2 separate regions of the Homo sapiens genome follow, and region 1 is linked to region 2. Evidence: fine-mapped expression QTL. A gene starts in region 2. The other region holds a variant in brackets. All regions are shown on one strand. Distances are between the middles of the regions.

Region 1 (2,907 bases), 330 kb before region 2:
AATAAAATGTCATCATAAAAAATAATAAGATATTTTATTTTTAAATTAAATGTTTAGAAATGACCACACTTTAAAATAATCAATGAATCAGAAGAAATCATACAGTTCCACCTTCCAAAGCTTTAAAAAGAAGAGGAAATTAAATCCATAATAAGTAGAAGAAAAGGAGTAATTAAGACAGGAACAGTAATCATTGAAATGGTAGACAAACGAGAGAAAAGTAACAAAATCAAAAGAAAAAGATGATACACTCCTAGGTAAACTAATAGGCAAATGAGAGAAAGATCACACATCACAAAATAACAATATCAGAATAAAATAAGAGTCATCACTATTAGATCCATAGATATTAACAAGATAATAAAGAAATATGAAATTTATAACAACAAATTAGTCAACTTAAATAAAAATATTAAATTTACTGAAAAACATAACTGACCATATTGAGAAAGATTGAACATAAAACCTCATCAATCCTATTTATCTTAAAGAAATTGAATTCTTCTTAAAATTTGTATTATTTTTCATCATCATAGTGTTATTATCTTTCTCTTTCCAATTTTTATTTTAGGTTTGGGGGTACATGTGCAGGTTTGTTACATGAGTAAACTTGGGGATCTGGCATGTAGACTATTTCATCACCCATGTAATGAGCATAGTACCTGATAGGTAGTTTTTCCATGCTCACTCTCCTCCTACCCTCCATCCTCAAGTAGGCCCCAGTGTCTAATCTTCCCTTCTTTGTGTCCATGTGTATTCAAGCTTAGCTCCCACTTGTAAGTGAGAACATGCAGTATTTGGTTTTGTGTTCCTGCATCAAATTGGTTAGGATAATGGCCTCCAACTCGATCTATGTTGCTGCAAAGGAGATAATGTCATACTTTCTATGGCTGTATATTTCATGATGTATGTGTATATTTTCTTCATCCAGTCCATTATTGATGGACATCTACGTTGATTCTATGCTTTTTCTATTGCGAATAGTGCTGCAATTAACATATGCATGCAGGTGCCTTTATGGTAGAACAATTATATTCCTTTGGGTATATACCCAGTAATGGGATTGCTGGGTTGAGAAATCTCCAAACTGCTTTCCACAGTGGCTCAACAAATTTATGTTCCCAACAACAGTGTATAAACATTCTCTTTTCTTCACAACCTTGCCAGCATCTGCTATTGTTGACTTTTTAATAATAGCCATTCTGACTGGTGTGAGATGGTATCTCATTCTGGTTTTGCTTTGCATTTCTCTAATGATTAGAGCTATTGAACATTTTTTAAACTACCAACAGTATTTTGCACCAAATTAGCAAAAAAAAAAAAAAAA[AC/C]CTATTATTAAATTCACATAGAACCAAAAAAGAGCCCAAATAGCCAAAGCAATCCTTAGCAAAAAGAACAAAGCTAGAGGCACCATCACAGTATCCAACTTTGAACTATACTACAAGACTACAGTAAACCAAACAACATGGTACTGGTACAAAAATAGATATAAAGTCCAACAGAACAGATTACAGAACCCAGAAGTAAAGCCACACAACTACAACCATCTGATCTTCAACAAAGTTGACAAAGAAAGCAATGGGGAAAGGGGACTCCTTATTCAATAAATAATGCTGATATAACTGGCTAGCCATATGCAGAAGATTGAATCTGGACCCCTTCCTTTCACCACCTACAAAAATCAACTTAAGATGGATTAAAGACGTAAATGTAAAACCCAAGACTATAAAAAAAAAATAGGAAATACCATTCTAGACTAGGACCTGACAAAGGTTTCATGACATAAAGGCTCCAAAAGCAATTGCAACAAAACCAAAAATTGACAAGTGGGACCTAATTAAACTAAAGAGCCACTGCACAGCAAAAGAAATTATCAACAGACACCTACAGAATGGGAGAAAATATTTATAAACTATGTATTTGACAAAGGTCTAATATCCAGAATCTATAAGGAACTTAAACAAATTAACAAGCAAAAACCCAAAACCCCATTAAAACATAGGCAAAGCACATAAGCAGACACATCTCAAAAGAAGACATACATGTAGCCAAAGAAATTGAATACTTTATCAAGATTTTCACACAGAGAAAACTTTAAGTCCGGATGGTTCTGCTGGTGAATTCTATCAAATATTTAAGGGATAAATAACACCAATCTTGATACCAACTGTTCATCCAATAGAGAAAAAGTAAATGCCAAACTCATTTCATGAGGTCAGAATAACCCTAATGCCCAAACCTGTCATAGACATTTCAACTTAAGAAAACTAAAATCTCTCATGAACATAGATGCAAAAAAAACCTTATCAAAATCACAGAAAATCTACACCAGCAATATATAAAATTGTAAGTATCCCATGAGGTGGTATTTAACCCAGAAATGCAAAGTTGGTTTAATATTCAAAAGCTAAACTAATAAAATTAGCATTATTATGGAATCAGGAATAAGAATTACAAAATAATTTCAATTACTGAAGAAAAAGCACTTCACAAAATGCACACCTTTTTTTTTTTGAGATGGAGTGTCTTCTATCTGGTTAGTTATCTACCGTTGCACCTTCTTTTTTTTATTTTTTGAGATAAAGTCTCGCTCTTGTCACCCAGGCTGGTGGAGTACAGTGGCACGATCTCAGCTCACTGCAACCTCTGCCTCCCGGGTTCAAGCGATTCTCCTGCCTCAACCTCTTGAGTAGCAGGGATTACAGACACACACGGCCACGCCCAGCTAATTCTTGTATTTTTAGTAGAAACAGAGTTTCACCATGTTGGTCAGGCTGGACTCAAACTCCTGACCTCGTGATCTGCCTGCCTCAGCCTCTCAAAGTGCTGGGATCACAGGCGTGAGCCACTGCGCCCAACCCATTCGTGATTATTTTTTAAAAACTATTATTTAACAAAGAGACTCTC
Region 2 (2,907 bases):
TTCTGTGGAGAATATGGGAAACGTATACTTGACAAAACGCAAAAGAATCATCTGAATAACTCATTTCAAGTAAAAAGAAAAAAGCCAAGCTGGAAAAACATAAAAAGGTTACACATCTTCTGAATAACCTCTTTCACAAAGTAACTGAGAAATCAAATAACCATAAAACATTCAAAAGCAAACCTTGTAGAAACAAATCTCTTTGCTACGCTAACCAGAAAAGTAGTCTCAGAGCTAAAGATAACCCTGTCTGGACAGTTCCCTGGTGCTGAAGTTCCAGAGCCGGTAAACGCATGCCTGGGTGCTGCTTTCACTCCTACCACCCTCAGAAAAACCCGGCCTGCCAAGACCGTGAGCAAGAATAGTAGAACTTCACAAGGTAGGGAGCATCCCAAACTGCAGTGATGGTAGGAACTGGAGTCTCTTCAGGATTAAACAGATTTACTAGTTGCAAACAGGAAGAGCAGCAGAGTGCAGGGTGTTAGCACTCGCCGAGGGGGAGGGGCTGGAAGATGGCGGCGGACGCACACCCACCCGACCGCGACAGAGCTTAGGCCCCTAGCCCGCGCCGCCGCCCGCTGCTCGCAGCCACTGTGGGCAGCCCTGCTCTGTCCCGCGTTGCTGGTAGAGCCGCCCCGCGGAGGCGTGGGACCAGGGTGGCGTCCGCATCCCCTGCCAGCGCGCCTTCGCCCGGGTCCGTCCAGGGAGCACCTGTGCACGGCCATATTGGATTCTGTGCCCCAGTCACTGCCTCAGCGCGGCGGGAAAGGAGAGGGTACGCACAGAGCCTGGGTTCAGCCCCAGTCCCGCTGGGGCCCCGGAGCCAAGATGACCAGCGAGGAAATCCGGAAAGGCGCCAAGGAAAATCACACCGCCTAAGGCTCGCCACCCTCACCTCAGCCGGCCTTGGCGCCCTCCCTCCCCGACACACACCCCTGCTCTCAGACACCCCTAAAACAGCCCGGGCGGCCGGCGCTGGCCGCAGCCCTCGTGGCCTGGGCGCCGCCAGCGGGAGGGAGGGCGGCGAACTGGGGCGCGCAGGCGGCCGCAGGGCAGTGGGCGAGGGGGCGGAGGGCAGGGAGAGAGGCGGGAATATGGAGCCAGGTCCTTACTTGAGCACGGACTGCTCCTTCTCCTCTTCTTTCTTCTGCCTATCCATGACGGCCAGGATGATTTTCCTCTCCTCCTCCGTGAGGTGGCTGAGGTCAGGCATCTCGGGCTGCAGAGGCGGCTGAGAGGCCGCCGGGATGGGAGCCAGGCGGCCCCGGGGCCCGACAGGAGCCGACATGTTTGGTGGAGCCGAACCACCCTAGGGAAGCGGGGAGGCAACTCCACTGGCAGCGGCGGCACCGGCGCGGCGGCTGGGGCAGCCTCCAGCGCTGGGACAAATACATACAAATCAATGGCCTTCAATCCAAGGCGACAGCCCCCCTCCCCCAAGAAAAGCAGGGGGAGGGGAGGGCGAGCGCGTGGGGAAGGAGGGCTGAGGAGTGCGCTTCGGGAAATGTTTCTTCTTCCCGGGGGCGAAGGGCTGTGAAGTGAGCGGTTCAAGGGAAAGGGGAACTGGAGGCCGGGACGCGGAGTGCGCGGAGAGGCGGGGGAGGGTGGTGGAGTAAGGTGGCGGGGACAGCTAAGGGTGGGGTGACTGGAGGGAGCAGGCGGGAGGGCGACAGGCGGACCGGGGCGCGAGTGTGTCCGGCCGCGGTCAGGGCCGGGAGCGCGCGCGCCGCCTCGGAGGGGAAGGGGTGCCTGCGAACAAGCCCCCGGGGAACTCGCTTCGAGCGCCCGGAGGCGGAGTACTGCCGGCCCGAGGGGCACCCAGGCGGGAGCCGAGAGGGTCGTGAGGAAGCGAGGACGGTTTCCCGGAGAAGCAACTCATCCGTCCCGCCGGCTGACGCATCACAGGGCTCCCGCGCGCCACAGAGGGAGAACTCCTCCAGGCACACCCGGGAGCGGGCCGCGGGGCCGGAAACCCCCGCGGAGACCCCAACCCCACCCACCCCACCCCCGGCTAGAGTGGAGAAGCGAAAGCGGAGAAGATATGACGGGGGCTAGCGGCGGAGAGTCCCGGGGCCAGGGCCCTTCGGCTGCCAACGCCCGGATCCAGGCGAGCTCCGACGTGCAGCGGGGTCTGGCGCCGGCCCCTCCTCATCACGCGCCCGGCCCAGGGTCGCTCAGCCGCCGCCACCGCCGCCGCCCCTTGGGTCGATGGAGTCGGCGCGGAAGGCCCGCGCGCCCTGCGCCGCCGCCGCTCAGTGCCGCCGCCAGCACCTCCTCCGCCCCTCCGCCTCCCGGGCTCATCCCGCGGGGGCGGCGTCACCTCCTCGCTGCCCAGGCCCGGGCACCGCGGGCGCCCCGCGGGCGGCAGCCGCCCCTCCCGAGCGCGATCTCCAGGCTGGGTCCGGGGCCGGGCGGGGAGGGAGGAGAGACTGAGCGTGAAGGGAGAGGGCGCCCGAGTTTTCGGGGACGGAAGTGTGGAGAATAGGAGCGTGTGAGGGGGCGCCCGAGGTGTCGGGGGCGGGGGAAGAGTATGAGCAGGGGTGGGGGCAGGGGTGCCAGGTGTAGCAGGTAGGGAGGTAGAGGCGGCGAGTGGGGGCGCCCGAGGGACCGGGGCGGGGCGGGGAGCGTAAGGGTGGCAAGGCGCCCGAGAGTCAGGGCTGGAGCTGAAGGTGGGTGACAGGGAGGGGGCGCCCAGGTGTCAGGACCTGAGGAGAAAGAGTGCGCGTAGCGGGAGGGCCCCGAAGTGTCGGGGCGGGATCCTGGAAGGAGGGAGAACGTGAGGAGGGAGGAAGGGTCCCTGGGGTGTCAGGGATGGGGGCCAGGAAAGGGGCAGAGAGCTGGAGGCCCACAAGTGGGGATAGCGGGGGAGGGAGGTTGGAGCGAGTGGGGAACGCAGGTGGTGTCGAG

Direction of the effects. Alleles are on the strand shown, and positions count from the first base shown. SD is a standard deviation of normalised expression in the study named.
For the expression in iPS cells of the gene that starts at base 1,565 in region 2, C is the low allele of the variant in region 1 and AC is the other (large effect, 0.77 SD a copy in iPSCORE).

What was found. PIP is the estimated chance that this variant, and not a neighbour inherited with it, causes the effect.
Region 1: its variant is the best candidate, but not a certain one, in a credible set for the expression of RIMS2 in iPS cells (iPSCORE, PIP 0.56).

What each region holds. Positions count from the first base shown.
Region 1 is chr8:103,827,508-103,830,414 of GRCh38, reverse strand. All of the region lies in intron 6 of RIMS2 (regulating synaptic membrane exocytosis 2), which reads right to left. Among named protein-coding and RNA genes, the nearest start is that of RIMS2, 330 kb to the right of the region's middle. The variant AC/C (reference allele first, on the strand shown) is at 1,328.
Region 2 is chr8:103,499,268-103,502,174 of GRCh38, reverse strand. RIMS2 (regulating synaptic membrane exocytosis 2) reads right to left here and starts at 1,565. Exons shown (of 30, transcript NM_001348484.3): 1 at 1,113-1,565. The coding sequence starts at 1,288. LOC105375690 (a long non-coding RNA gene) reads left to right here and starts at 265. Exons shown (of 5, transcript NR_145698.1): 1 at 265-379. RefSeq lists a silencer at 160-454.